4 linked regions of the Homo sapiens genome follow. The protein of the gene in region 3 interacts with the protein of the main gene of each other region in a pairwise test. Each region holds a gene or a part of one and is shown on either strand. Other genes may lie near its edges.

Region 1 (7,669 bases), on a different chromosome or scaffold from region 3:
TCATCCCAGCTACTCGGGAGGCTGAGGCACGAGAATTGCTTGAGCCTGGGAAGCGGAGGTTGCCATGAGCCAAGATCACGCCACTGCGTTCCAGTCTAGGCGACAGAGTGAGACTCTGACTCAAAAAAAAAAATTATTATTATTATAATTTTTTTGTGTAGAGATATGGTCTCACTCTGTCACCCAGGCTGGAGTGCAGTGGTGTGATCACAGCTCACTGTAACCTCAAGCTCCCAGGCTCGAGCAAATCCTCCGACCTCAGCTTCCTTAATAGCTGGGACTACAAGTTTGTGCAACCGTGTCTGGCTAATATATATTTTTTAATTAAAAAAAATTTTTAAAGATTGTCTTTATATATGATTTTGTGACTCTATTTTTTTTTCTTTTGTTTTGAGACAAGGTCTTGCTCTGTCACCCAGGCTGGAGAGCAGTGGCGTGATCCTAGCTTATTGCAGTCTCAAACTCTTGGGCTCAAGTGATCCTCCTACCTTAGCCTCCAGAGCAGCCAGGACCACAGGCATCTGCCATAACGCCCGGCTAATTTTTGTACCATTTGTAGAGACATGGTCTGAATTTGTTTCCCAGACTGGTCTCAAACTCTTGGGCTCAAGTGATCTGCCCACGTCGGCCTCCCAAAGTGCTGGGATTACAGACGTGATCCAACATGCCTGGGCAAGAATACCTTTCGTTGAGCAAATTGTTGAGAGGTAGAATGAGGAAAACTTTTGGCTAAAAGGGACCCCAAGATATCCCAAGTGGCATATTTATAGATGTGAAAGTGATTCCACAGCTGGGCATGTCAGATCAAAATTCTCCATGGATCAGGAATGCCTCCTTTTCCTTTTCTGTCACCACCGGTCACATTTGGCTACTTAATTTCTGGGCTCCAGTGCAGCATGGAAACGCGAGGCCCTTTGTTCAAAAAGTGTTCGAATTTCTTTTCTTCCTTCTTTTTTTTTTTTTTTTTTTTTTTTTGAGACGGAGTCTCGCTCAGTCACCCAGGCTGGAGTGCAGTGACACGATCTCGGCTCACTGCAGCCTCCATCTCCCAGGTTCACAGTGTGGAGAGGCAGGGCACGGTGGCTCATGCCTGTAATCCCAGCACTTTGAGAGGCTGAGGCAGGAGGATCACTTGAGCCCAGGAGTTTATGACCATCCTGGGCAGCTTAGCAAGACCCTGTCTCTAAGTAAAATTAAAAAGTTATAGCCAGGTATGGTGACACACACCTGTAGTCCCACCTACTCCAGAGGCTGAGACAGGAGGATTGTTTGAGTCTACGAGTTTCAGGCTGTGGCGAGCTATGATCATGCCACTGTACTCCAGCCTGGGCAATAGAGTGAGACCCTGTTTCTCTCTTTCTTTCTCCCTTTCCCTCTTTTTTAAAAAAAAGACATTGTGGAGAGTGTGTGTGTGAGTTTAGGGTGAGGGGGACTAATTGCTGTTCTAAGAGTTTCGTAGTTGGGGGGGTGATAAGGAGGGGATGGGGGGTGATGAGGAGAGGGATGGTTGGTGGGTGGGCCTCTTATCCCAGGAGATAAGCCAAATTGAAATGAAGGCGCAAAACAAGGGAAACAAAATGGGACTAACCGTGGTGGCATTTCCTGGCCTTGGGGCCTGAGGGAGGGAAGACTGTGGAATTTATTTAGAAAACTTCCAAACCAGCGGTTATGAGTCTTTTTTACTATTCTGGCCTGTTGCTCTTGTTCTTTTCAGAATTATAAATGTGTTTGTGTGGCTGTTTGATCTCAAAGCAATGCTCAGAAGATGCAGTGTCTCGAAATCCCAGAAGATAAGATGTTACCACATGAAAGATGGTCTCAATAAAGGGGGAGAGGCGGTGGCCGAGGCCTTAATTTCCAAAACGAGAAACTGGGGCCCACCCATCTTTTAAAGGTCGTCAAAAGAAAGCTCCCATCCTCCCATCCCCCACACCTGTGTGTTGACTCTGTAAAGATGCAGTTTCCTCACTTTGGGAGGAGAGGCCGTGGTTTTTGCAGGAATTGCGCCGCTGCCGAATTCAGCCATTGCCTCTTGGAGGTTTAGGATGCCCCAGGCCTTGTTTTCCCTCAAAGCATTCCATTGGCAATCACGACCAACCATGCTCCTTGAGGATTTCTGTACACACTGGCTTTTCCTGGTCTTGTAAGTTTTTATACGAGTCAGTTTTCACCATAAATCATGGAGGTGGGTCTGGGGCTGTGACGGCGAGTCCTCGACGTTCAACCCGGATGTAGGTCACTCCAGACCCCCAGGGTGCCCTGTCGTTCCCTTTGCTGGAAGTTTCAACAAAGCCAGAAGCAGATGTCAGGGGTTCCCGGGGTCATCTGGGAGGGATGTCCGCTGAGTTTAGGGGCAAGCTGGGACTGCTGCATTTCTGTTCCTGTACGTCAGAGGAAACTAGCAACACGCCTCAAACCACTTTACACCATGTCTCAGTGTTAAACCAGAGCCTGTTTTCACAAACACCTCCTGCGATCTCATTACAGCCCCACCCTGCCCTCCTGCTTCTGTGGCCTTCTCTACTTTGCTTCTTGCTCCTCTTAAAGACCTTCTGTCTCATCTGTCTTTTCTGGGGTTGGGCCTTTCCCCTTCTCTATAACCTTCTGTGACTCCCACGGCTCACAGCTTTGCTGTATATTAGGAGCAGAAAGCAAGCTTCATTACATCATTTAAAATTTTTTAGTAGCTACATTTTTTTTTTTTTTGAGATGGAATCTCGCTCTGTGGCCCAGGCTGGAGTGCAGTGGTGTGATCTCAGCTCGCTGCAACCTCTGCCTCCCAGGTTAAGTGCTGGGATTACAGGCGCACGCCACCAGACCTGGCTAATTTCTGTATTTTTAGTAGAGATGGGGTTTCACCATGTTGGCCAGGCTGGTCTCGAACTCCTTACCTCAAATGATCCACCCATCTCAGCCTCCCAAAGTGCTGGGATTACAGGCATGAGCCACCGTGCCTGGCCGCCACATTTAATGTATTTATTTATTGATTTTTGAGACAGAGTCTCACTCTGTTGCCCAGGCTAGAGTGCAATGGCGCAATCTCAGCTCCCTGCAACCTCCACCTCCCGTGTTCAAGTGATTATCCTGCCTCAGCCTCCTGAGTAGCTGGGATTACAGGCGCCCAATATCACACCTGGCTAATTTTTGTATTTTTAGTAGAGACGGGGTTTCACCATGTTGGCCAGGCTGGTCTCAAACTCCTGACCTCAGGCGATCCGTCTGCCTTGGCCTCCCAAAGTACTGGGATTATAGTCGTGAGCCACTGTGTCTGGCCTCTTTTTTATTTATTTTGTTTTTATTTATTTATTTTTGAGACAGTCTCGCCCAGGCTGGAGTGCAGTGGCGCAGTCACGGCTCACTTGAACTCCTGGGTTTAAGTGATTCTCCCACCTCAGCCTCCCAAGTAGCTGGGACCACAGGGGTGCACCACCATGTCTGGCTAATTTTTAATTTTTTTGTAGAGACAGTGTCTCCCTATGTTGCTCAGGCTGATCTAGAATGCCTGGGCTCAAGCCATCCTCCTGCCTCAGCCTCCCAAAGTGCTGGGATGACAGGTGTAAGCCACCATGCCCGGCCTAGTAGCCACATTTTGAAAGGTACAAAGAAACAGGTGAAATTAACAATACATTTTACTTAACTTCATATATCTAAGCTGTGGTCATTTTAATATATCAATATAAGAAATTATTAATGAGATATTTTACATTCATTTTTTCCTACTAAGTTTTGAAACCCAGGGTGTATTTTTACATTGACATTCTATCCCAAATTGAATGCTAAATTTTTATCAAAAAACATTTTGATCTATATTCAGTGTTCATCAAATTTACCATTGAAAAAATGATTCATATATTCAAGTTGTCCCAGACTTACATAAAAGCTTCCCAATAATTGAATTGTTAGTTTTCACATTTAAATTGCTTAAACTTAAATACAAGTAAAAATTCATTGGCAAGTAAAAAGATGAAAAAGAAGCTAAAACAAAAAAAATTCAGTTCTTCACTCACACTAGCTCATTTCTTTTTTTCTTTTAGACATAGAGTGTCGCTCTGTCACCCAGGCTAGAGTGCAGTGGCATGATCATGGCTCACTGTAGCCTCCACCTGCTAGGCTCAAGTGATCCTCCTACCTCAGCCTCCTGGGTAGCTGGGACCAGAAGTGTGCAACACCATGCCTGGCTAATTTTTTTAATTTTTAAAATTTTGTAGAGAGAGGGTATCACTATGTTGTCTAGGCTGGTCTTGAACTCCTGGGCTCAAGTAATCCCACTGCCTCGACCTCCCAAAGTGCTGGGATTGCAGTCATGAGCCCCCGTGCCCGGCCACAAGCCACATTTTAGACGCCCAATAACCTTACGTGACTGGTGGCTGCTATATTGGGCAGCAGATACAGAGCATTTCCATCCTCACAGAAGATTCTGTTGGACAGCACTCTGATAGAAAGAAGTCTTGAACACGTGTTCTCCAAGGGACTTTCAAAGTTTTCTAGAATGCAGCCCCAACCTATCTTTACTTACTGACTTTCTTTTTATCACGTTCACTCCCCCGCCTCTATTCCACTTTGTTTCGTTTGTTTGTTTTTGAGACAGAGTCTCGCTCTGTTTCCCAGGCTGGAGTGCAGTGGAGTGATCATGGCTCACTGCAGCCTCAACCTCCTAGGATTAAGCAATCCTCCTGCCTCAGCCTCCTAAGTAGCTGGGATTACAGGTGTGTGCCACTACACCTGGCTACTTTTTTTATTCGTTGTAGAGACAGGGTCTCACTATGTTGCCCAGGCTGGTGGTGAATTCCTGGGCTCAAGTGATCCTCCTGCCTCAACCTCCCAAAGTACTGGGATTACAGGCATGAGCCACTGCACCCAGCCCTTTTGTTTTGTTTTGTTTTAGAGATGGGGGTCTCACCATGTTGCCCAGGTTAGTCTTGAGATCCTGGGCTCAGGCTATCCTGCCACCTCGGCTCCACAGAGTGCTGGGATTACAGGTGAGCCACCGCACCTGGTCTCTGTTTCCACTTTGAGGTGAATACCCTTTCTTCGGTTCCTCCAGAGAAGTCTCCTCTTTGGGGCTTGGTTTAGAGGCAGGGCTTCTGAGAAGGACTCTACCCTTCTCCCTGCAGTGGGATTAATTGCTGCCTTGGCTTCCCACGAGTTCTAGAAAATGAGGCAGACAGTGTCGGGAGAGGGGAGTGGTGGTTGTGGCTCGCTGCCCCGGAGCCTCATTTCCCATTTCTCCCGAGACAGGTTTGAATGGCTCTTCTAAGGCAGCCTGAACCCTGCCCAGTTAGAAAAACAGCCACACAAAGAACAGCACTGTGTCTGCTTCCAGCTGCCCCATGGCTGCTGGATCATGGAACATCAGACAGGAGCACACTCTGGGTGCAGGGTGTAATTCTAGGCGAGCAGCAGCTCTGCCAGGGCTGGAGGGAAATCCTTTCTTTGCCCTCACAAAAGAAAATGTGTGCCTGGCTGCTCTGGTGCTCATTTTTCAAAATGAGAACTGGAGTCTATGTGTATTTCCTTCTTAAAAAGCTATAACACAGAGGCTGGGCGCGGTGGCTCATGCCTTTAATCCCAGCACATTGGGAAGCCAAGGCGGGAGGTTCACTTGCCCCCAGGAGTACAAGACCAGCCTAGATAGCAAAGTGAGACCCCCATCTCTACAAAAAATGAAAACATTAGCCGGGCGGGGGGGCACATGCCTGTAGTCCCAGCTACCTGGGAGGCTGAGGCAGGAAGATCACCTGAGCCTGGGTGGTGGAGGCTGCAGTGAGCTGAGATCACACCACTGCACTGTAGCCTGGGTGACAGATCTTGTCTCAAAAAAATAAAACAAAACAAAAAACAAAACTATAACACACATACAAAAAAGTATATACATTTTAATTGTACAACTGAGATTTTTACAGACTGAACATACCTCTGTAACCAGCCCCCAGGTGAAGAAAGAGAACAGGACCCGCCCCCCGCAAAGGCCCCCTCATACCCCTTTCCAGATTCTTCTTCCTCTTCCAAGAGTAACCGCTCCATGGATTCATTTTGCCTATTTCTGACCTTTATTTAAATAGCATCATACAGTGTGCATTTTGTGGCATCTGGCCCCTTTGCTATTTGTGATAATTTGTGGTTGGTTTTTGAATGCCTTTATCTTTTCCGTTACCTGAAACAGTTAGTGAAAACCACAGTGGTTTAAAAACCAAAAAAACCACAAAAAAACAAACAAAAAAAAACAACGAAGAAGAAACACCAGATATGGAAGGTACGTAGGTCATTGTCTGGTAATGGTTTAAGATGTGAAGAAGAAATGACCCTTATTTGGTTGATGTTTCCACTTTGGATTTTCCAGGTTTTGGTGATTTTGGGTAGTAATTATTTACTTTTTGATTAATTCTGGGGTCTTGAAGGGACATTAACCCTCTTCCTAGCTTTTGGACAAAGCTGGATGGAAGTCATTTTCTCAGAATTTCTGTTTGCCAGAAAGAAAATTGAAGACTTAGGTGAAAAAGAGAGGGAGAGATCAACTGAATTTCTTATCTGGTATGTTCTGTTTCTGTTTTAGGTAAAATGTCGGTTCCAGGACCTTACCAGGCGGCCACTGGGCCTTCCTCAGCACCATCCGCACCTCCATCCTATGAAGAGACAGTGGCTGTTAACAGTTATTACCCCACACCTCCAGCTCCCATGCCTGGGCCAACTACGGGGCTTGTGACGGGGCCTGATGGGAAGGGCATGAATCCTCCTTCGTATTATACCCAGCCAGCGCCCATCCCCAATAACAATCCAAGTACGTGTGGCCTCCCAGGCCCCCCTTACCATTCCTTGGCCCTCCACCCTGGGAATCAGGAGAGTGACCGAAGTGACTCTGCCAAAGAGTCTAAGTGAAGTGCCAGTACGTTCCAGTTTTACCCCCTTACCTTGAAATTCCACACGCAGTCTTTTAGATTCCATGTTGGTGAGGCTCACAGCTTTTCCGTAATAAAGTATGGTTTAGGATCTTTCCCATGGTCATCATATACGAATCTTTTGGCACATCTCTTGGAGGCACAACCAACTTTCTTCTGAGAATGGGAGTTTGTGTCTTAAGGGCCCGCACACTTCCTCCTGAGGTCTGATGCAGAACTTCTGCCCTGAGGCCAGGGCCGAGGTAGGAATAGGGAGGAGAAGAAACCGTCCTGAGCAATGTGTGATTGTGTTTTCATACCAGCTCACCCTCAATGCAAGTTGCTCTTCTGCTTTTGAGCAACTAGATGGTCCCTGTCCTTTGGTGCTTCCTTCCGCCCAAGGGTGCCCTGGTATGTCACTGCTTTAGTATCACAGGTAGTTCTGAAAGAAATCTTTAGCTCAGAGAGGGGGCCCGTGAATCAGACTGCCTGGGTTCACATAACCTCCTTGTGCCTCAGCTTCCCCATTTGTAAAATAGGTTTCATCAAGTACCTATTTATAAATATCAGTGAGTTGTTAACATGAGAGGAAGTTGTGTGTGCCAAATACAGAGTACTCGTTTGATAAAAGTGAACTCTTATTGTTGTGTTCAAGTTATTTTGAGCTGGAAGAGGATGAGATAATGACTTTAGATTCTTAGACCATCCTGTGATCAATAAATAGTTTCTTTTTCTTTTTCTTTTTTTTTTTTTTTGAGACAGGGTCTCACCATGTTGCCCAGGTTGGAGTGCAG
Region 2 (7,669 bases), on a different chromosome or scaffold from region 3:
GTTCTTTTTTTATGGGATTGAGATCCACTTTCCTAGGCTTATCTCTGCAAACCTGTCTTTCATACACTGTCTGCTTATCTCTGAGGCTGTCACTCCAGGTGGGATTCATACTGTGTTTTATTTTTATTTATTTATTTATTTATTTTTTGAGATGGAATTTTGCTCTTGTTGCCCAGGCGCGATCTTGGCTCACTGCAACCTCCGCCTCCCAGGTTCAAGTAATTCTCCTGCCTCAGCCTCCCGAGTAGCTGGGATTACAGGCGCACGCCACCATGCCTGGCTAATTTTGTATTTTTAGTAGAGACGGAGTTTCTCCATGTTGAGCCTGGTCTCGAACTCCTGACCTCAGGTGGTCTGCCCGCCTCGGCCTCCCAAAGTGCTGGGATTACAGGCAAAGTGCTGGGATTACAGGCGTGAGCCACCGCGCCCGGCCTCATACTGTGTTTTAAAGTGGGAAGAACCAGTCTTATTTATTAAAAAATGCAAGCAGAATATTCTGCTATACTAGAAAGAGTGAAGTTAAGGGAAAAGTGACTACCATGTCATTTATGATTCTAGTCAAAAACTGAGCTGTATCACATACCATTGATTGTTCAGAGACTTGAGTTTATCTATGAGGGTTACTTTCAGAAATTTAGCTAAAGTCAAGTCTACCAGTAAGAATTGATGGCATACCTGAGATGGTTTATCAAAACTATTGTTTACGAATTGTTTGTGTTCCTGTTAAATAGATTTTATGTATATATTCTTAATTCTCACAACAGCTGTATGAGAGGTAAGTGGTATTATTTCCAGTTGAAGAAATTGAGATTCAGTGAGGTTAGGTACTTGTCTAAGTGTGAACTGTGGGTGACAAACCTACATTCAAAGTCAGGACTGTGTGATTTCAACACTGACATTATATGCACCCAGAGACCGGTCTTCAGCCTGTGTGTCTGTGACTAGTTCCATGTTCCCAACCTGGAGCTGAACTGTATGTCCCCTTGTCTGTTAGTCCTGTAGTCTTAGAATAGACAAAGGTGTCGTAATGTTAGCTTCACAAAGAAAGTCCTGGCTTGTTGAAGTCTAGCCCAAGTTTCCTAGTCTTGGGTTTTGCGGTCTCAACGTCCCCATGGTCAGGGGACATGGGGACCCTTGCTCAGACCTTGAGGGTGTGCCCTCCTTTGGCCCTTTGGATGTCCTTTGCCACACCCTTGTTTGAGGGCAAGCTTTCCCTTTTCCACCACAACTTGAAGTAAGTGCTCTGTCAACATAGTGATCAGTGACTCTTTTGACAATTTTGTCCTCCCCATCACGCCTAGCATGGTGATGTACACAAAATAGATGTACTTTAAATAAGTCACATAGACTTTTCCAGTGTTCTGGTCCATGGGTGTTTCAGAAGTGTGTATTCAGACGATTTACTCTGTATATAACCCCATCCCCATATGTATGGGTTAATTTTCCTTCTTTCCTGAAAGTAGAAGTATCAATGCCAGTAAAACGAGGTGAGATACATTATATTCACGGGGTTGTAGAGCAGCAGAGATACACATGTGATGTGGTCACAGGTAGGCAAAGCCAGCCTTGGGACTTATTTTCCTGCCATTGCCACATGTACTGTTGGGACCCAGTCCTGGCCTCTGGAGGACAGCCTGACTTGGGAGTCTGCAGCCAGGGCTTTGATGGCAGGTGAGATACTTGGGCAGAACTCCCTGACCCAGTGGTTCCACCTGTCTCTGTGTTTCTGTGGCTCTATTTAGTAGGGCTTTTTGTTTGTTTGAGACAGAGTCTTGCTTTGTCGCCCAGGCTGGAGTGCAATGGCATGATCTCAACTTACTGCAACCTCTGCCTCCTGGCTTCAAGCAATTTTCCTGCTTCAGCCTCCTGAGTAGCTGGGATTACAGGTGTGCGCCACCATGCCAGGCTAATTTTTATATCTTTAGTAGAGATGGGATTTCACCATGTTGGCCTTGCTGGTCTTGAACTTCTGACCTCCTGGTCCACCCCCCCCACCCCCCCCCCCGCCCCCCGCCCTCGGCCTCCCAAAGTGCTAGGATTACAGGCATGAGCCACTGTGCCTGGCTTTTTTTTTTTTTTCTTTTTAAGACAGGGTCTTGCTCTGTTGCCTAGGCTGGAGTGCAGTGGCGTGATAACTGCTCACTACAGCCTTGATCTTCCAGGTTCAGGTGGTCCTCCTGACTCAGACTCCCAAGTAGCTGGGACTGCTGGCTTGTGTTAGCATGTCTGGCTATTTTTCTCTTTGTAGAGACGGGATCTTGCTTTGTAGTCCAGGCTGGTCTCAAACTCCTGGGCTCAGGTGATCCTTCCACTTCAGCCTCCCAAAGTGCTGGAATTACAGATATGAGCCATTGCGCCCAGCCTATTTGGTAGTTTCTGCACAGCTCAGGTAGTCAAGTGGATGCTTGGGTATCACTTAGTGGTCAGTTAGGCAAGTGCAGTGGACACCCCTCCTGGTGAGGAGAGTGCCTGATACTACTGGCAGGAAAGCCGAATGGCGCATATCTGGTTGACACCAGTTGCAGGCACGGCAACATAAAGGGAAGTACACGAAATGGGATTGTGTGTGTTGGCCAAGAATGGGATGAGATGTACAGGAACAGAAGGTGTAGTGGGCAGTGAATGGATGTGAGGAAGGTAAAGAGATGACCGGAGCTACAACTGGCCTTTAAGTCCACTGCAGGGGTTTTCCCTTCATGCAGTCAAGGAAATTACTGTTTTATATACCAAGTTAAAGGAAATTACTGTTTTATATACCACGTTAAATACCTGGTCCAAGATCACAAATGAAAGGTTGAATTTGCTCAAGCTGACAGAAGTACGTGAGGTAGTAGGATGTGCACAGCATGGGAGGCCAGGCAGGGCCTGGTCTATATCCTGCTGTGCTCATTTATCCAGTGTATGCATCAGGAAGGGGGGAGCCTTCCACACTGTGGGCTTCTGTGGGAAATGGTAGGAAAGAGTATCTGTGAAAACTCTTAAGGACAAAGAAAAAAAACGTGTTTTTTCTTTTTTTTTTTTGGAGACGGAGTGTTGCTCTGTCCCCCAGGTTGGAGGGCAGTGGTGCGATCTTGGCTCACTGCAACCTCCACCTCCTGCGTTCAAGCGATTCTCCTGCCTCAGCCTCCCTAGTAGCTGGGATTACAGGTACGAGCCACCACGCCCAGCTAATTTTTTGTATTTTTAGAGATGGGATTTCACCATCGTGGCCAGGCTGGTCTCGAACTCCTGGCCTCAAGTGATCCATCTGCCTCGGCCTCCCAAAGTGCTGGGATTACACGCGTGAACCACCGTGCCTGGCCAAAATGTGTTTTTTCAAAAGAGAAAGATATTATTTTTATTTGCGTATAGAGACTTCACAGTCCAGCATTTTCTGATCAATCTGGCAATTTAGACAATATTTGGAAATTTAGAAAGTTGAAAAGTTTGAGAGGTTTAAAGTTTAGTACTGTATGAGGAATTAAATGTTAGATATGTTTCATTTGCTGAAAAGCAAGCTTTTTAATAGAAACCCTAACCGGAAAGTGTTGGAACTTCTAAGTTGGTTGGCAGCATTCTCTGTTGACAGTGTGTGCTGCATGCAGCCTGTTAAAGCACCAGTTGGCGGGCCCTGTGCTCTGCTTTCCCTTTCATTGTGAGGGACTGCTTTGGGTAATTCTATACAGGTGTAATTAAGGGGCCAGGGGAAGAGTTCTTTTTGTTTCTGCTGTGAATTAGAGGACTATGTCCTTGCTCTTTTGGCGCAAAGCCAACCTTTCAGATTTCTAAATTTTGAAGGCTGAGCATGGTGGCATGTGCCTGTAGTCGCAGCTAAACGGGAGGCTGAAATGGGAGGATTGCTTGAGCCCAGGAGTTCAAGGCTGCAGTGACCTATGATCATGTTTGTGAATAGCCACTGCATTCCAACTTGGGCGAAATAGTAAGACTGTCTCTAAAAAAAAAAAAACAACCGTACTATTTTTTTTTTCCAGGTACTATTTTGAAGCGCTGGAAGAAGAACTGGTTTGATCTGTGGTCGGATGGTCACCTGATCTATTATGATGACCAGACTCGGCAGAATATCGAGGATAAGGTCCACATGCCAATGGACTGCATCAACATCCGCACGGGGCAGGAATGTCGGGGTAAGCTGGCCTGTCTTGGCCAACTTCTGTCTTCTGCTCTTCCTCTGTCTTGCTGGGAGCTTGGTCCTCTTCCTTCCCTGTTCTGCTTTCATTAACAGATTGAAGAAGGGCTCCATCTCAGAGGGGCGACCACAGTGGGGCCCCAGGCACTTAGATTATGAACCACATGGTCGGGAAATATCAGTGTTCTCAGTCCACGTCCCTCGTTCTCGTGGAGAGGGAGCCAGAGCTCTGGGAACCTCAGGAAGCACAGGCCACCCTAGACTACGTTGATTTTGTACTCAGAAACTGGCTTCTGTTTGATGGTGACTCCAGTCAATTGCTTAAAATCTGGGATGTTGGCCAGGCATGGTGGCTCATGCCTGTAATCCCAGCACTTTGGGAGGCCGAGGTGGGTGGATCACGAGGGCAGGAGTTCAAGACCACCCTGGCCAAGATGGTGAAACCCCAACTCTACTAAAAATACAAAAAAATTAGCCAGGTGTGGTGGCAGGTGCCTGTAATCTGGCTACTCAGGAGGCTGAGGTAGAGAATTGCTTGAACCCGGGAGTCAGAGGTTGCAGTGAGCCGAATATATTTTGTGGACGTCATCTTGGCAGCTGGTCTTGTCAGTCAGCCTAGCTATGTTCTTTCTGCATTCTTGGAAAGGCAGAGGGTTCTTTCATAGATGTAGCACTTGATTTATTGTCTAGTCCTTTGCTTCTCTGAGCTGGTAGTTCTTAGAAAATGTAAGAAGAAATCCTGAAAAAAGTTCCTTTATTCTGCTTATTTTTCATAGATACTCAGCCCCCGGATGGAAAGTCAAAAGACTGCATGCTCCAGATTGTTTGTCGAGATGGGAAAACAATTAGTCTTTGTGCAGAAAGCACAGATGATTGCTTGTAAGTTTTGCTTTCTTATGTGTTTAATTTAAAAAGTATTTTCTATTTTAACTTCTGATTACCAAAAAATGAAAAGAAAGGGCGTGGAGTTTTCTTTCAGGCATCAGAATAAGGGACTCAGTGGATGTATGAGAGAAATGCAAGAGTCGCTTTTCCAATTCTAGTTTCTGCCTCTCTCAGACTGCCTAGGCCGATCCCATTGTGGTGAAAATGGCAGAAAGGAATAGCAGTCTCATCATGCTGTCTTTCATTATTAGATTCACAGTGGGTAACGGGCATAGTTGAAATAAAATGACCAGAAAAGCAAGAAAGTAAAGAGTAAGGAAACTGTCAGTTCCTAGGGCTGCTGTCACAAATTGCTGAACACTGAGTGACGGAAATGGCAGAAATTCATTGTCTCATAGTTCTGGAGGCTGGAAGTCTGGAATCAGTGTGTCAGCAGATCCTTGCTCCCTCTGAGATGCTGGGTAGGATCCTTTCTTGCCTCTTCCTAGCTTCTGGTGGTTGCTGGTAGTCCTTGGTGTTCTTTGGCTGACAGCCACATCACTCCGGTCTCTGCCTCTGTTGTCACATGGCCTTCTTCGGCTGTGTCTGTGTCCAGAATTCTCTTTTCTTATAAAGGACACCAATCATAATGGATTAAGGACCCACCTTAATTCACTATGACCTTATCTTAATTTGATTCCATATGCAAATATCCTATTTCCACATAAGGTCCCATTTGAGGGTACTGGGGATTAGGATTTATACATATCTTTTTCATGAGGACACAATTGAACCCATAATAGAGACTTTTGAGAAAGATGGTGAAATGGATTAGAGATCATCTTCCCTGAGGGGAAAACATTTCAATGGTGCAACCAAATAAAGAAGTTTGATCTCAAGCACAAACTACAAACAGTTAAAGAAAGAAATAGATGATTCTACTGAGATGTTCTTCAATCCTACCCGAATCCCAGAAGCAGTGACAAGATGAGTTAATTAAATCTTGCAAATTTTCAGTATTACCCTGTAATCTGGAGTGATGCTGATTAAGTGTAAGTTACTTTTTGGAAAAGCTAGGGAAAAAATCCTTAAGAATGTGATGTCCTTGGGGCCTCAGCAGAGGCTGGACGGTTCTCCCAGGACTCATCATTGCAGGGCAGTGAAAGGCACTGAAGCTCACAGGAGTTGGGTAATTTTCTGTCTGGTGAAGTGAGCCCTAGCATGGGACATTCAAAGGAATATGCTCAGAAGAGAGTGTAGGACCCAGAGTTTTCAGAAAAGACTTACTCGGTCTCAGAAGAAATGTCCTTCTCTTCTAGCCCTGTGCCCTCAGATTACAGAATGTTGATTGTGAGGGTAACACCTAGCCATCAAACTGTTGCTGGGCTGGACTGAGGTAGAACAGGGTGGAACTACCAGTTGATACCAGATTAGGTAGGAAGCGTGTCAAGGAGAAATAACTCATACTTTATGAGAGCAAACAGCAGTTTTAGATATCACTTCCCATGTTAAACGTGAGCAGGATGTAAAGAAGTGGCTTGGCAACTATGCAGATATACCATGAAGGAAAAATAAGAAAAGGAAAATGCAAGCCTCAGGAAAAGCTCCTAGAGTGGAGGAAAATAAAACCCAAGAAACAGGAGCAGAGTCTTCAGGAATGCTTTCCTGGCCACCATATTTAAAATTGTATCTCCCTGTCCCCATACACACTCACCATCTATCAACTATTTATCTTGTTCATCATCTGCTTTCATTAGAATATATGCTGTGTGAGGGCAGAGATTTATGTTTCTTTTCTGCTCTTTTGTGTCTGTAACTTAGAAGGTCTGTTGCTGTCAAGAGGGTGCCATTCACGTTATAATCTGAAGAAAGTGGTCTTCCCTTCAATACAACCCCAAATGAAAAGTGAATCATTGGCATGGAAGAAAAGACTGGAGATACTCTCAGTGACAGGAAAAAGATGAAAAGATCAGAGATATGTTAGACTAAAAAAAGTTCAGAAAGATTATTGATGTCCATAAAGTGTACAACCCAAAAGAGAGAATTACAAATCTAAGGCAAGAAAAATGTTCTGAAATAATCGAACTGAATTGGCAGACCAAAGTCCCTACTAGACTCTTCCACCTGATATGACAACAAAATCTATATAAGATATATGAATAATCCAGTATGATACCCTTTAGCAAAGTGAATGACAATGGTATGCCACATACAAAATCAGTTGGGGAATTTTGCAACTTAACTGCATTCCTTAGAAAGCTAGAACACTTGGGCTGGGTGTGGTGGCTCAAGCTTGTAATCCCAGCACTTTGGGAGGTCAAGGCGGATGGATCACCTGAGGTCAGGAGTTCGAGACCAGCCTGGCCAACATGGTGAAACCTCGTCTCTACTAAAAATACAAAAATTAGCCAGGCGTGGTGGCAGGCACCTGTAATCCCAGCTACTTGGGAGGCTGAGGCAGGAGAATGGCGTGAACCTGGGAGGTGGAGGTTGCGGTGAGCCAAGATCACACCACTGTACTCCAGCCTGGACAACAGAGTGAGACTCCATCTCAAAAAAAAAAAAAAAAAAAAAAAAAAAAGAAAGCCAGAACACTTGAAAATAAGTGAATGAATCTTTCAACTCAGGGAGATAGTAAAATGAGAATAAAACATAAAAGGAATTGATGAAGATAAGAGG
Region 3 (7,669 bases):
CTGAGCCTTGGGCTTCCGCTATCCTTGGGACGTCTGGTCTTCTGGCTTCCCCGGTTCTTCCTGCCGCCCTGGGTTGGTTCCCTGCTCCTGCCTCTGTCTTTAATCCCTTCATCAGCCTTCTTTCCCATGTGTCCTTGTTTCTGCTGTGGATTCCTGCCCCCTCTGCCCTTGTTCCAGAGGTCTTTCCTGCCCTCCCTCTCCACTTCCTCCTTGCATGGTTTACTGAATGGTTTTTCTGGGCCAGCTTCTTTGCTGGGAAAAGCCACATGCAGACAGACATGTTCTCTGCCCCCATGGGGCCTGTGGGTTGACCTTAGCTACAGAATCAGACGAGAATATAAAATCATGAGGGAGACTGAGTTTACTGATGAGGCCCCAGGGATAGGTGACTGTGATGTTTGGGTGTGCACCTGGGAAGTGTAAGCAGAGCCCTTGGGGTGAGTGGATATCCCTGGATGAGGAAGAAGGAAGAGCGCATGGGCAGGACGGAGGGCCTCCTGATGCGCTGCCGGTGTTTACAGGGCGTCAGTTCTCTAGATGACCGCATGGAGCCCCATTTGACAGAAGAGAAAGCTGAGGTGCAAAAGATCCAGCCCGCCCAGGGTGGCCTTGCCAGGAAGTGCTGAGCCAGGTTGTGGGGCTGCGATCTGCCACTGCATATACTCTGCCTCACTGAGCAGGGGCCCCAGCAGGAAGGAGGCAGCCTGTTTGAGGAACTGAAACATGGATGGGGTTACTTTGAGACCTAGAGGTTAACAAGGGACAGAGCCTTCTGGGCCACAGTTAGGAACTCATCTTTGACCCTGAGGGCTCTGGGCAGGCCATGTCCCATTTGTGTTTCCAGAGGTCCTCTTCCCCTCGCAGATGCGGTGACCTGCCAGCACCTGCCGCAGCCTTCGTCCGGGAGTCGCCCCATCTCTCCACGCATCGGGGCCCTGTGCCCCTTGCTGCTGCAGCCGGGCACCATGTCGACCTCGTCCTTGAGGCGCCAGATGAAGAACATCGTCCACAACTACTCAGAGGCGGAGATCAAGGTTCGAGAGGCCACGAGCAATGACCCCTGGGGCCCATCCAGCTCCCTCATGTCAGAGATTGCCGACCTCACCTACAACGTTGTCGCCTTCTCGGAGATCATGAGCATGATCTGGAAGCGGCTCAATGACCATGGCAAGAACTGGCGTCACGTTTACAAGGTCAGCATCCTGCTCTCCTCCCCGGGCAGGTGCAGGGGCTCAGGTGGGAGGACAGGAGCCCGTGTTGTGCACCCTGCCTGGGATGGCATCCCGGTTCTCAAGAGGAACTGGAGAAGAGTAAAATCTCTCTTTTTGTTTAATGAAGGCAACGAATATAAGGCTAAGAAGTTTGGAGCCTTGTGGTTAAAATCTGTTTTTGAGTGAGTGGTGCGTACGTAAGATTCATGTGCTGAGGAGGCCTGAGAGGGCCCACGGTGCCCATCTCTTCTGTGTGCCCAGACACCCAGTTCCTTTCCTCACAGCAGCCAAGTTTCCGCTCTGGGCCCCATCTATGAATGCCTCTCAGGCAGGTGTGTGCTCCCCGTGGCACAGGCGATGCCACGCTGGGGATGAACGCTGTCGTGCCTGTGAGCAGGACTCAGCGACTGGGTTTTCAGTTTGCTGCTCTTGGGGTCCAGGGGCCTTGGCATCCCCACCTTTGGTCTTTGGTTACTGTGTTCCTCGTGTTACGGCAAAGTGGCCAAGGACATGGGCTGGGGCCGGGTTATACTCCCAGTGGCGGGATCTCAGGCTCGTCCCTGAATCTCCCTCTGTGAGGGCCCATGGAGCCGATTCACGTCTGACTTGGGGCAGGGGCTGGTGAGTGTTAGACTCCTGCTGTTGCGGTCCCGTCGGCAAGCATCTGCAGAAGGCCCGCTCTGGGTGTCTTGGTGCACCAGACCAACAAGGCCCCACCCTCATGCGCTTAGACCTGGGCCTGCTCTGGCGGAGGTCCCTGTCCTTGCTGATCTTTGAGACTTCTGCCTAGGTGAGGGTGGTTCCCTCCACTCACAGATGAGGAGGCTGAGGCCTGGAGCGTTGCAGCACTTACACATGGGAGCAGGGGTTGAGGCTCGTTTCCTGTGACTCGTTTTCATACCCATCCCGACACACCAGGATTGGGTTGAGTCATAGATTGAATCAGTTATTGGTCATTTATTGTGAAGGGCTGGGTGGCGTTTGTTTAGTTGAGAATCTTGGAAAACCCTGGAGGTGCAGGTGAGCCTCTCTGGAGGCAACGAGGAGGGATGGGGCTGGAGGGGTGGGTGTGCAGAGGGGATGAATCCAGAGGGGCCCCAGACGCACATCCTTCCTGGTCAGTGGCTGGGGTGATGCTGCTGGGGGCAGACACAGAGTGGCCTGTGGGCAGGGCTGGCAGGTGCCAAGGCCTGAGAGTCTGCTGGGGAGCATGTGGTGCTGGCAGCCAGGGTGGACGGCAGGACAGGGCAGTGCAGGAGAGGGGACGTGGCCTCCAGTGCCAGGCGGGGCTTGGGCTGCTTTACTGAGGTGTAATTTGCACACAGTGAAACCCAGCCTTTCGAGATAGAGTTCTCTGGATTCTGACAGATGCACATATTTCATAACTGTCATCACAGTCAAGGCATAGAAGGTTTTTGTCACCCCCAAGACCTCCCCTATGGTTTTTGCAGCCCCTCTGGGACTCTCCCCAGGCCTGGCTGTTCCTGCTGTATCCGCCATCCCTGCAGCATCTCTTGATTCTTGGGACTCTCCTTTCTATGATCCCCACAGCAGAGCCTGTAGGATCCCCAGCCCATGTGGCTGAGGACACGGGGTTCCCGCTCCACCCTGAACCACTGGTTCCTCATGCTGGGGTGGGGTTCAGCCTCAGTTCCCCGGGGGAGGGTTGATGGCGTCTGGAAACCTGCTTTGGTTGCTGCTTGTGCTGCCTGCTGGACACTGTCCTGAGAGCAGCTTTGTGAGGTCAGCACGTGTCACTGTTGTCCCTGCTGCGGCATGCGCCGATAGCTGAGCATAGGCACAGGGCAGGGGTCCAGGAGGGGGTCCCTGGGTCCACGTCTAGCCAGCGCCTCCCTTCCTGGCTGACCACTTCTATCCCGCAGTCCCCTTCTGGAAGTACGGGTGATGAGGACAACCCCACAGGCCCAGAGGCCCTGAGCCACTGTGAAGCTGCTACACCCCCTTTGGCCCTCTCCGGAGCCCTCTGTGCTGACCTGTTCTGGCATGAGGGCGAGTCCTCTTGCTTCTCACCATCCCTTCGCCACATGGTCTCATCTTGTCACTTCAGCCCCAGGTGGTGGGTTGTGCAGGAGCAGTCTTTCCACTTTGATGGATGGGGAAACTGAGGCCCAGAGACGGGGGAGGTGGCCTGCCGAGGCTCGTGGGGGAGCTGGGGCTTGGGCCCATCTGTTCAGAGCCCAGGCTGTCCCACCCTGTGGCCCTGCTGGCTGGCACTTTGTGGGCCTTATTGTCCCCGTGGAGAAGGAGGGTGAGCTGTGGGGGCCTTGCAGGCCTGGCTCTGCACGGCCTCCCTGCATGGCCTTGGGGGTGAGTATTGGTGAGTAAGGGCCGGCGTTTATTTGGTACCTTGTACGTGTAGCACACACAGGTTCTCATGAAATCCACGGTTACCCTGTAAAGGAAGTTCTTTTTCTCCTTTTCCTCTGTTTTCCAGATGAGGGAACTGAGACATAAAGGAGCTCAGCTCTACCTCGCAGGAGGTGGTAGAGCCAAGAGGAGCCCCGAGCCCACCCTCTGGGCCCTGCACTGCCACCTCACTTCTGAGGAATGCAGGGTCTCAGTCTTGGCTTTAAACCAGGGGTCAGCAAAGTACAGCCCACTGGTGAAATCCCACTCACAGCCTGTGTTTGTAAATAAAGTTTTATTGGAACACAGCCAGGCCCATTCATCTGTGGCTGTGAAGTAGTTGAGACAGAGAGTATATGGCCTGAAAAACTGAAATGTTTTTCATCTGGCTCCTTACAGAAATGTTTGCTGATCCCTGTTTTAAACTTTATTTCTGCATTGCAGGATGTCCTTGATAAAGCTGTCTTTAACATTAAGAAGGACTATCATTTTATGCAGTTGCCCACTGCTTTTTGGTTGTTTTCAGAAAAGCAAAGGAGAAATAATGACTTATTTTGCAAACTTTTTTTTTTTTTAACTTTTTTAGAGACAAAGTGTTGCTCTGTAGCCCAGGCTGGAATCCAGCAGTACAGTCATAGCTCACTGAGCCTTGACCTCCTGGGCTCCAAGCATGGTTGAGGAATAGCTGGGACCACAGGCACACACCACCATGCCCGGCTAATTTTAAGATATTTTAAATTTTTTTGTAGAGATGGCAGTCTCACTGTGTTGCCCAGGCTGGTCTTGAACTCCTGGGCTCAAGCGATCCTCTTGCCTTGGCTTCCCAAAGGGCTGGGATTATAGTCATGAGCCACTACACCTGGCCCACTTGCTCACTTCTAAAATAAGGTTTTAAATTTTTCATTAAGAAGTTGTATACTAAGCACATCATGAATGTATAACACAGCTGTTACGCATGTGGACACCTGTGTAGCCTTCACCTAGAGGGAGGTAGAGGATGCATTCAGCCTTCCAGGTTTCCTCAGGAGACCTGTCTCCCACAGCACCGTGTCTGATTTCTGTCTGCCAAGACTGTTCTTGAGCTTTATATATGTGGAGTCACACGCGTGGTCTTTTGTGTCTGGCTTCTTTTGCTCACCATCACCATCAGGTCAGCAAGGTTGACCGTGCTGTTGCATAAAGCAGTTGTTCATTTATTTTGAGAAAGTCTCACTGTTGCCCAGGCTGGAGTGCGTTGACATGTTCTCGGCTCACTGTAGCCTCTGCCTCCCGGGCTTAAGCAATCCTCCTGCCACAGCCTCCCAAGTAGCAGGGATGACACGCATGTGCCACCACGCCTAGCTAATTTTTTGTTATTTTATTTATTTATTTTTTTAGAGCTGGGGTTTTGCCATGTCACCCACGATGGTCTTGAACTCCTGGACTCAAGCGATCCACCGACTTTAGCCTCTCAAAGCACTGGGGTTACAGGATTTTGCCACTGCACCCGATTTTATATATTTATTTAATTATTGTTTCTTATTTATTTATTTATGAGACGGAGTCTCGCTGTGTTGCCCAGGCTGGAGTGCAGTGGCACCACCTCGGCTCACTGCAACTTCTGCCTCCCAGGTTCAAGCAATTCTCCTGCCTTAGCCTCCCGAGTAGCTGGGATTACAGGTACTTGCCACCACGCCTGGCTAATTTTTGTATTTTTAGTAGAGATGGGGTTTCACCATATTGGCCAGGCTGGTCTCGAACTTCTGACCTCGTGATCCGCCCGCCTTGGCCTCCCAAAGTGCTGGGATTACAGGTGTGAGCCACCGCGCCCAGCCTGTTTTTTGTTTTTTCTTGAAATGGAGTTTCGCTCTTGTTGCCCAAGCTGGAGTGCAGTGGTGCTATCTTGGCTCACTGCAACCTCTGCCTCCCAAGATCAAGCGATTCTCCTGCCTCAGCCTCCTGAGTAGCTGGGATTACAGGCGCATGCCACAATGCCTGGCTAATTTTTTGTATTTTTAGTAGAGATGGTGTTTCACCATGTTGGCCAGGCTGGTCTCAAACTCCTGACCTTGTGATCTGCCCGCCTTGGCCTCTCAAAATGGTAAGATTATAGGTGGGAGCCACCATGCCCGGCCTTATTTATTTATTTTTAAATGGAGTCTCACTCTGTCTCCCAGGCTGGAGTACAGTGGCGTGCTCTTGGCTCACTATCACCTCTGCCTCCCTGATCCACGGGATCCTCCCACCTCAGCCTCCTGAGTAGCTGGGATTACAGGTGTGCACCGCCACACCTGGCCAGTTGTTTTGTGTTTTTAGTAGAAACAGGTTTCATCATGTTGGCCAGGCTGGTCTCGAACCCCTGACCTCGGGTGGTCCACCTGCCTCAGCCTCCCATAGTGCCGGGATTATAGGCGTGAGCCACCACACCTGGCCTCATTTCTCTTTTATTTCAGTGTATGTGGTAGTCCCGCTGTGTGAGCGTGCCATAGTTGATGTATGCATTTCACTGTGCGTGGGTATTCGCACTATTTCCTGCTTCACAATCTTTTTAGCTGCGATACCAAAGTCCAGAGAGCTCTGGAAACGAAAGTGTTTCATGATCCGTTCGGCACAAAGTCTGACCCAGACTGAAGTGAGGTCGTTCACATGGTGTCTGTTGGTCCCACAGTAGTGTGGCTGTTGGCACGACTCTGCCCAGCGCGTTCTCTTATGTGTTGTATGTGCGTTATTTTCCTGGTCTGAACTCAGGAAAATTCTGAATTCCAAAACACAAGGGCCCCAGGAGTTGTGGACCTGGGACTGCCTCTTGGCTTGGGGTGTGATCAGGCATAGCAATGGCTTACCTGCTTTCCTTTCTTTCGTGTAAATACCTTGAGGGCCGGTTAAAGACTAATCTCTGATTACACTGTAAATACTGTTAACACACCTTTGAAAGGCCTTGCCAGAGCTAGGTCCAGCTGCCTCAGAGGGTGAGGAGATATGAATGGCCCTGGCATCTTTCCTGGCAGATTTCTCCTTGGTTCAGACGGAGCTTAGCTGTGATAGCTGACTCTTCCCCTAGGAGCCCTGGGTGGGTTTCTGTGGCTCTGTGAAGGCCCTGGAATCCCCTGCAGAATCAAAGTTGTGCCTTTTTTTGAGGTCAGTGACCAAGACACCCCCTGCAGAGCCTTAAGGGGGCCATGACTCCTCAAGCCCAGGACTTGAGCCTGAGCTAGGGAGAGCCTCAGAGACCTTGGTCCCCCCGCCCCCACTATTAATTTCAACTTGTTGAAAGGGAGTTTGTTTTCGTATTATAAAATACAAACATACCAAAGGGTGCAGATTGAACGATAATGTTCCCTCCGCCCTGTCCTTTTGCTCCTGGTGGTGTGGAACCTGGGTGCCCCTCCCAAGAGAGCCCGGGCCTACACAGGCCCTTGCGTGGATCTCTTCCCTTCTTGCAGAGGTGATAAACTACTGCTCCAGGCTGTTAGTACCAGCGTGAGGTTTTACAGTCAGAAATACACATTTCAAACTAGTACTAAGACCCCCTTCATTGTGATTTAACTAATGTGGTTTTCTTGGCCATGTTACTTTAGATTTTAGTTGTAAAGAAATAGACAGGGCTCCAGGATGCCAGGCGATGCCCATGGCGGCTGTGGTGCCTGTAGCTGCCATTTCCTCTTTTATTTGGATTGAGATGGAGCTCCTACACTGTGCAGCCCCCTTCATATCGCACAGTTCAGTGGCCTTCGGCCCATTCACAGTGCTGGGCGACCACCTCTGTCCAGCTCCAGAACGTCTTCATTGCCCCAGAAGGAAAACCCATAGCCTTCAGGTGGTCCCTCTCCATCCCTCCCTCCACCCCTGGCAACCCACAATCCACTCCGTCTCTCTGGATTTGCCCATTCTGGATGATTCACGTCGATGGAACCGTAGGCTGTGTGGCGTTCTGTGCTGGCGTCTGTCGCTGAGCGCAGTACCTCCGCGGCTGGTCCCCGTCACAGCGTGGGTCTGTGTTCATTCCTTTGCATGGCCGTGTCGTATTCTGTGGGGACAGATGTGTGTCCACCCACTGGCGACAGGTGGGTTGTGGGCCTTGCGCCCAGTCGGCCGCCCCAGAGCCCGCGTCG
Region 4 (7,669 bases), on a different chromosome or scaffold from region 3:
GGACACACAGCTAGTAACCTGCGAACCACAACTACCTAATCCAAAGTCCATGTCCTTTCCCCTTCCTCACCAGGGGAAGCTCCAATGTTGGGGACAGGATCTTTCAGGAGAGGAGCCAAAAGGATTCGAGTGCAAATGCACTCTTCCCTACTGGATCTGGTGTGAGGCTGAGCCTCTGCTCCAGCTGGGAAAGCAGCCCACCCCGAGGACCCTGAGGGAATACTGCCAGTATCCTCGGGCTTCTGTCCACCCAGCAAGAGAAGAAGGGAAAAAGAATGCCCATGGACACTGAAAAGGACATTTTCTTGGCAATGGGACTGCATTTCCATCAGGGTCCCTCAACTATACACTAAAGCCCCCTCTCTTCCTGCTCCAGACCCTCAACTTCAGAACTGATTTGTGGCTTTATCTTTGTCAATATGTTAGCAGTCTGAGAAGCCCGGAACCAGGAACTGGGTCCCCTTTAAAGCCCGAGTTTTGCAGAAAACCACATAGCTGCCTCCATACCAGGCTCCGCAAGGACTCCTCAAACCACAAAGGTGTGTTTTTGGCAACACAGTTTTCTCCTTTTACCATGGATGAAAGAGACAATAAGCTAGAGGCTTTCTGTAAAACGCCAGGCTTTCCCTGCCATGGGCCTCTCTGCTCCCTATCTCTCCCGTCCTCCTGACGCTGAGGCTGCCAGGCACTTACTTCCGTAAACACGTCCAGTGCAGCCCCGGCACACTGGCCAGACTGCAGGGCCCGGAGCAGGGCGCCTTCGTCCACGATCCCTCCACGGGCACAGTTCACCACACGCACCCCCTTCTTGCACTGGGCAAAGGTGTTGTCATTCAGCAAGCCTGGAAGAAAGCGAAGCATCTTCCTGCTGGGGCAGCACCAGGATCCCCACGCTCATCCCTGGCTTCCAGAGGTCTTCCCTTTCCTTGAGCCAGCTCTTTCCCAGAGCCTCTCTCCTGCTGGACGGCAGCCTCTTTGCTCTCATCTCTTCCTCCTCAGATGCTCTGGGGCAGGAGTCCCTGTTATGGATCTGGGCCAGACTCAGTTTAGAAACATCTTAGAAATTCTTGAGATATTACTGTTTCAAGTGGGTCTGGGAATCAGAAAGCCCTGCAGGGGCTGCAGAAAGCATCCATGGGGGTCACTGGTTGTCCCTGTGCCCAGCTTACCTAGACCCCAAGCACTTCTAGCTGGCTCACCCTCCCCTATCCAACGTAGGGGTGTCTAACAAAACACCAGCCTCTGCAGGACCCAGGTGGACCTCTCCCCACAGCTGGTTACCACTGTCTGGGGAAGGCCCAGATGGAGGGCCCATTTGTTAACTGGTCTGTGGCTTCTGTGACCAATCCACAATGTAAGGACACACCTACCTGTCGTGGAGGGCAGGAGAGGAGTGTGCACAGTGATGAAATCACAGAGAGGCCAGATCTCCTCCAGGGGCAGCTGCTGAACACCAAAGGAGGCCGAGACCTCTGGGGAAATGATGGGGTCATACCCTATAGTCTGGTTGGAAGCAAGAGAGAGGGAGGAAGTGTCATTCTTAATTATTAGTATTGTTATTATTAAGAATGGCAAACATTTTTTGAGCATTTACCATATACTAACTACCATGCTCAGCTTAATTAATTCTCCAGTTAATTTACCATACACTAAGTACCATGTTCCACATACTAAGTACTATTTACCATATACTAAGTACCATGATCAGCTTAATTAATTCTCATGACCACACAATGATGCTGGGACTGTTCTTGTCTGCTTGAGAGCTGAGGGAAGCAGGGCTTCCACAATGAGGAGGGGCACAGCCAGAGCTCAAAAGAAGGTGCGTCTGCCTCCATGCTGTGATCACACACAGATGCAACAATAGCTCATATAGGTCTGGACAAGGTGGAGCTTGGAAGTCCTTAGAAAGCAGGGAGTCCTGAGGGAGGGAGGGCAGTCATGTAGGGAGCGGACAGCCAGGAAAGGGAGAAGGAGAAATGGCAGCTGCAGCTGGAGGGTCCAGTCCAGGAAACAGGTGCATCAGGTACTAAAACAGAGTGAGCAGAAGCGAAGGAGGAGGACAACAGGGGTACAAGGCAGGACCCAGAGTGGGAGCAAGACTGCATGCCCTCTAAATCAGGAAGCCTGACCTGTGTCCTCCCCCAGTCACTGCCCACTGTGTGGAAAGGTACAGGTCAGTTCCCCTGGACCTGGGTCCTCAACCCTAAATAAAGGAGCTGGGCAGATGATTGCAGCCATCTCTCACTCTCACATTCAATCACTGGGAATTATTTGAAGAGAAATCCCCCTTAACCCCGAGACAGAATGTAAAGAGTGAGCCCAGGATTAGACAAAAACAAAGAATACACAGCATAGTACTTTAACAGCGGTTGTCTCTGGGTAGTGGAATTATTTTTCTCCTTTTTGCTTTCCTGTGCTTTCAAGTTTTCTACTACATTATTCATAAATTACTTTTGAAATTAGGGATACAGTATAGATACTTTAGAATATAATGGGAAAGATGGGTGCCATTGCTCACACCTATAATCCCAGCACTTTGGGAGGCTGAGGCAGGAGGATCATTTGACCCCAGGAGTCAGAGACTAGCTGGAGAAACATAGTCAGACCCCCCCCCCTACAAAAAATTTAAAAAACTAGCCAAGTTTGGTGGCATGCACCTGTGCCACCCAGAAGGCTGAGGCAGGAGGATCACTTGGGCCTAGGAGGTTGAGGCTGCAGTGAGCCAAGATTGTGCCACTGCACTCCAGCCTGGGTGACAGAACAAGATGTCTCAGAAAAAAAAAAAAAAATAAAACAAAATAAAAAAGAACGTAATAGGAAAGAGGACTTCAAATTCAGTAATTCTAGGGCAGAAGCTAAAATGGTTATGATTAAGGTGAAGCCTCTGGATCCCTTTTTTCATCATTAGCCTTGTGGAATAAGGAAAGCCAAGTGGCCCCACACCAACCATCAGGCAGGTTTTGGGGAAAGATGCTGCCTCTCCCACGCCCTATAAGAACCTCCAGCTCAGAACGCTGGTGGTCTTTTTCAGACACTGCTGCTCCCCTCGGCTGTAACCTACTCATTTCTGGTGGGGAGGAGAAAGTGTCCAGGCGAGGAGATGGGATCCCTGCCATCGTTGTCACAAGTCTTCTTCGTCTGCTGGCCCTGAGGCCGGCCAGAACAATGGCCCTGTTCATCTCTAATCCAGATGTATTTTTTTTTCTCATATGGAGTGGGGAGAGGAAGGGAACACCAATAGAGATCACAAGGTCCAGCCTGACTGACGTCTACTCCATGCTCAGGAGCCAAGAACAACCTGGGGGCTGGCAGGAGGAAGGACCCTGCAGGCTGAACCTGGCCCCCTCCACAGACAGGTGACTGGGGCTGGAGGGAGGGGGTTGGGGAGAGGAGCAGGTGAGCATCTTCCTCAGGGGTGAGCGAAGCACTGACTCAGCTTCCTTCTTTCACAGAGAGTATCTCATTTATCTGCAGATGACTGCAGGGAAGGAATCTGGCTGAGCAAACCTCTGTTCTCATTTTCCATTTGAGATAACCAGGGCAGAGAAGAGCTGAACTCAGCTGGGGGTTGGGGTTCCGACACTAGGAGACAACACTGAGGGGATGGAAAGGGTGACAACAGGCCCAGGACACACGTGCCTGTCAGGGTCCTGGTGTGTCCTGGAAAGGGTCAGATGTCCTAATATACAGACATTGGAGCACCTCTGGGTACCCACCATTCAAAGACTACTCCCGGAGAGAAGCCTTGGGGAGAAACATGAAGGGGTTCCCTCACCTCAATCCCAGCCCCAGGGCAGACTCCTGATGTTGAGGCAACAGAGGAAGCCTCACTTTCTAAGCAGGACTCCAGGGCAGCTGGTGGCTCCTACCTGCCTGAGGTCACAGAAGACAGCCCTGAGAGGCTGGTATGCTGGCTGCAGGGCCTTGCTGGCTCAGCAGAGCAAAGAGGAGAGCAAGGAGGCCTCCCAGTTAAAGAGGCTCTGAAGAAGAACCCTCACCGTCACGTGCTCTCTCTGCCCCACAGCTGAATTTTTAGTTTAGCATTGGAACTCTCCCTACCACGGCAATGAAATCTTAAACAGAGACCCAAATATAAAAATAGGTCAATTCAAAGCTGCAGAGGTAAAGGCTCAATGTGCCACCACCTGCTGTCTCCCTGGGCCCCTCCTTGCTCCCACCTGTGTCCCTAAGGCACCTTGCCAGAACCCGAGGCTCTTGAGTTTGAGAATCACTGCTCTGGGCAGTAAGCATTCCAGGTAACACACTGAGATAGGAGCTGCCCATCCTGGAGAGTATCTGTCTTTGGAATAGCTAAGCATACCGGCATGGCACAGGGACTGTTTACCTAAAATGGATCATGAATAAAGTTAAGTGGTACTGGGCAAAGAATGCCAGCCTGGAAGGCTGAGCCGAAATTCACCAGTTCATAGTTGCATTATCTTCAGCATATCATAGAACCTTCCTGGGCCTCAGTTTCCTTATCTGTAAACCTGGGATAATAATTCTGACCCTGCAGAGTCATTTCAAGCACAGGAACCGACACAGTAGACCTCAGCAAACATTAGCTGGACCTGAAAAAATCGGTGATAACTGGTGCCTCAGGTTCAACATCCAACCCTCTGGGCTAAAGTTGGATTCATCACAACGCTGGCTACAAAGAAACTGTTAAGAGATGCTTGTCTGTTCCCTCAAGGAAAACCTTGATCATAAAGCACAAGGCTCGCTTCTTGATTGGTTTGTGCCTCTTAACACATTCTAAGGAACACACCAGCATGAATGAGCTGAGTCTCTGAGGTCACGACCTGTCATTCAGCAACACTATTGAGAAAAAGTCTCTCGCAGACACAACAGTATAGAGCGTTAAGACCTGTATGACTCAGACCACAGGTAGGCTGCAGGTCAGGCCACAGTGTGAGGAATGTCACCTCCCTTGCTCCGGAAGCCATACTTCTTTTAATGCTGCCAAATGTCAGGTTACCTTTTCTATCAGCTATGCCACTGACAACCACACTGCTCTTTTGTAAACCAAAGCCCTGCTCCCCCAGAAAAGCTTTTGACAAATGCTTCTACATCTAAAACTTGTCTAGCTGCTTTTTGGACCCACAAGTAGGGTGCAGAAATGTATTCTAGCTAAATTTCCTGTGAGGGTGCCCAACCATTCTAGCCTTCATATGTCTTTTTGGACCTGATTCTGCACCCTTAAGTATTAACTACCTCTCCTTGCTTCCTGCCATCCACAAATGACACATGGTTCAGGCTGTTGATGAGAATGGTGGGCAAGGTGGAGCACTATTGCATACTATCTCCCTCCAAACTGAGGTGGCCCATTCCACAACAGCACCAAGCACTAATCCCTTCAATAGCACCAAGCTCAAGGGGCTCCATCCGAACCCCGAGGGAATCATGAAAGATGTCTTACCAAAGTCCATATCTATACACAATCTAAATACCCATCATTGAGAGAATGGCCAAATAAAAAGCAATTTATCTGCACAATAAAATTCCACACAACTGTTTAAAAATATGCTAGATTTAGTTGTTCTGAGATAAACATGTTTTTTTCTTAACATCACAAACAATATTCTATTGTTTGCAGCCAAAGAATCCATCCACAGGCATGGAACTGTATGCATTCTGTGCAAATGCATAGAAAAGTCTCGGATGACATGCTAAACTGATGTTTACCGTGAGGAGACTAGGGTTCAGATGGTAATCAAGTATAGCCTTGTCCAAGTTTTAATTTATATGAGAATGCATTCCTTTATTACATGATTAAAACATAACTTTAAATAGTCCGGGTATCTGACATCTAGGGATTTCCATACTCTACCAGTTTAATAATGGTTTCCAAAAAGAGGATGAGGCTAGTATGAAATAACTTGTGTTTAATAAACACTTATCCTCATTTCCTGTCTGGGTGCTTATACATCTCTTTCACAATATGTTCAAGAATCTTCCTTTCCCTTTAGAAAATCTTGTTCTCCAAGACCGGTAGAACTGATGAGCTCTCCGCCCTAAGACAAAATTCATCCAGACTCAAAAGTATGATAATGACGTGGTTGAGGTAAGCAGCTGAGCACGAGAAGAGGCCACTTAGACTCTCCGGAATGATGAGGTCCAGGCAGCTCCGGAGGGGCTGAGGTGGGAGACGGAATGATCCAAGCCATGTTTCAGGGGTTTACAAAGAGCATGTTCTGGAAGCAAGACAGTTAAGAATGACCCTCCAGAGACATCTGGACAGAAGAAATGCAAAGTGAAGGCACTGGCACCCTCCACACCATGCTGGGAATGGGAATAAAACATTCAGTGGGTGACCTGCTCTGAGGCACAGATTAACACTGAAATGAGCAGGCCGTAGACATCTCTTTCAATCAAACACATGCACGAGAGGTGTCAGCCATTTCCTGACACTGATGCTCAAGGTCCCAGGTACCCATGCACCTCTTGGAAGCATCCCAGGGTAGAGAGTTGGGCAGTGCCAGATGGACAGACAAGCTTACCTAGCACCTCAATCATTCAGGAATGAGGTGGGGCTTTTCATCTGGTTGAAGTCGCTGCCGAAGTCTCCATGATGAAGAATATTGCCAGGAATATTGATGTGTAGTGGTGCCACGGAGAAGGAAGCCTGGGGAAGGGGAGTCATGGGGAAGAGGACCCCCTGGGGAAGGGGGCAGGAGCCTTGGAACGGCCACTGGTCTGGAGCCTGTCTCCCAGTTACTGCTTCATCAATGAAATGCTCACCTATTTGGCTATGAGTGCTCTTAGTTTTACTTAACTCCTGACCTCTGCCTTTTATATCAAAATTCTCCATGGACTAAACCTTGACCCTTGATCCCTTACAAAAGAGGATGGAGGAGGGAGTGCTCTTTGTGGCTTATGGCATCCCACCATCCCTGCACAGAGGGCAAGGCTGTGGTTTGTTTACATGATCAATGATCCTGCTGGGCTACATCTGCCTCTCTCAGGAGTCCAGGGATCAAGAATACACCTGGCCCTTCTCAGTGCAGAGGCTTAGGAAAGATATCTGGCTGACTTAAATAAATAAGATGGGGAGTGGAGGCAGGAGGGAGAGGATAATATTCAATGTGTACAATGGGATGCTCACCAGGCTCTAGGCTACTGTCCATTTGCTATGAGTCCTTAGGCATAAGCTTACAAATTCTAGATGTCAATGTAAAATTAAGGGTTAATCTATTAAGATCCCTTCTAACTCTAAGAAGGTAGGAGGGATGTAGAAAAAGGGAGAGTTCCATAGCAGCTCTATGTAAACTTTTCTAGATTTGACATGATCTGGTTGTCAAAACTGATCTCCTAATGTTTAAAGACTTCCTGGCTGCAGTTTGACCCCATAATCCCTGTAATTCCCTAAAACAGAAAGTGAACAGAGAGATGTCCCATAGTAGCCTTAGTGGGTTCATCTCTTTGGCCTATCTGGGAAGCCCTGCAGATCCCCTCTCTTAGCTGAATTGCCTCTCTCATTTGCAAGGTCTCCTGGATTAGCCCAAGTGGGTGGCACTGCTACTGATGGCAACCAGAGGGTTGCAATCAGGCTAAGGGAGTAGCCAGAAGCCTACTGAGCTCCCAGAGTAGGAAAAGGCAGAGACCTGGGGGAAGACAGGAGTTAGGTGTGATTTCTGAGACCGGTGTGAGGTCTTCCAGCCACCAT

Evidence for each region.
Region 1: the proteins of EPN1 (region 3) and LITAF interact in binary tests that used the Homo sapiens proteins (3 or more experiments, as listed by UniProt).
Region 2: the proteins of EPN1 (region 3) and PLEKHB2 interact in binary tests that used the Homo sapiens proteins (3 or more experiments, as listed by UniProt).
Region 4: the proteins of EPN1 (region 3) and PHGDH interact in binary tests that used the Homo sapiens proteins (3 or more experiments, as listed by UniProt).

The regions. Positions count from the first base shown.
Region 1 is NC_000016.10:11,555,620-11,563,288, reverse strand, and holds part of LITAF (lipopolysaccharide-induced tumor necrosis factor-alpha factor), read left to right. Parts: intron 1-2,122; exon of another isoform or gene 2,123-2,143; intron 2,144-6,553; coding exon of another isoform or gene 6,554-6,558; coding exon 6,559-6,778; intron 6,779-7,669.
Region 2 is NC_000002.12:131,121,782-131,129,450, forward strand, and holds part of PLEKHB2 (pleckstrin homology domain-containing family B member 2), read left to right. Parts: intron 1-1,788; exon of another isoform or gene 1,789-1,886; intron 1,887-3,971; coding exon 3,972-4,124; intron 4,125-4,902; coding exon 4,903-5,005; intron 5,006-7,669. UniProt on the Homo sapiens protein: Involved in retrograde transport of recycling endosomes.
Region 3 is NC_000019.10:55,677,663-55,685,331, forward strand, and holds part of EPN1 (epsin-1), read left to right. Parts: coding exon of another isoform or gene 1-72; intron 73-864; coding exon of another isoform or gene 865-965; coding exon 966-1,193; intron 1,194-7,669. UniProt on the Homo sapiens protein: Binds to membranes enriched in phosphatidylinositol 4,5-bisphosphate (PtdIns(4,5)P2). Modifies membrane curvature and facilitates the formation of clathrin-coated invaginations. Regulates receptor-mediated endocytosis.
Region 4 is NC_000001.11:119,728,468-119,736,136, reverse strand, and holds part of PHGDH (D-3-phosphoglycerate dehydrogenase), read right to left. Parts: exon of another isoform or gene 6,504-7,669; intron 6,198-6,503; exon of another isoform or gene 5,738-6,197; intron 1,504-5,737; coding exon 1,371-1,503; intron 843-1,370; coding exon 694-842; intron 1-693. UniProt on the Homo sapiens protein: Catalyzes the reversible oxidation of 3-phospho-D-glycerate to 3-phosphonooxypyruvate, the first step of the phosphorylated L-serine biosynthesis pathway.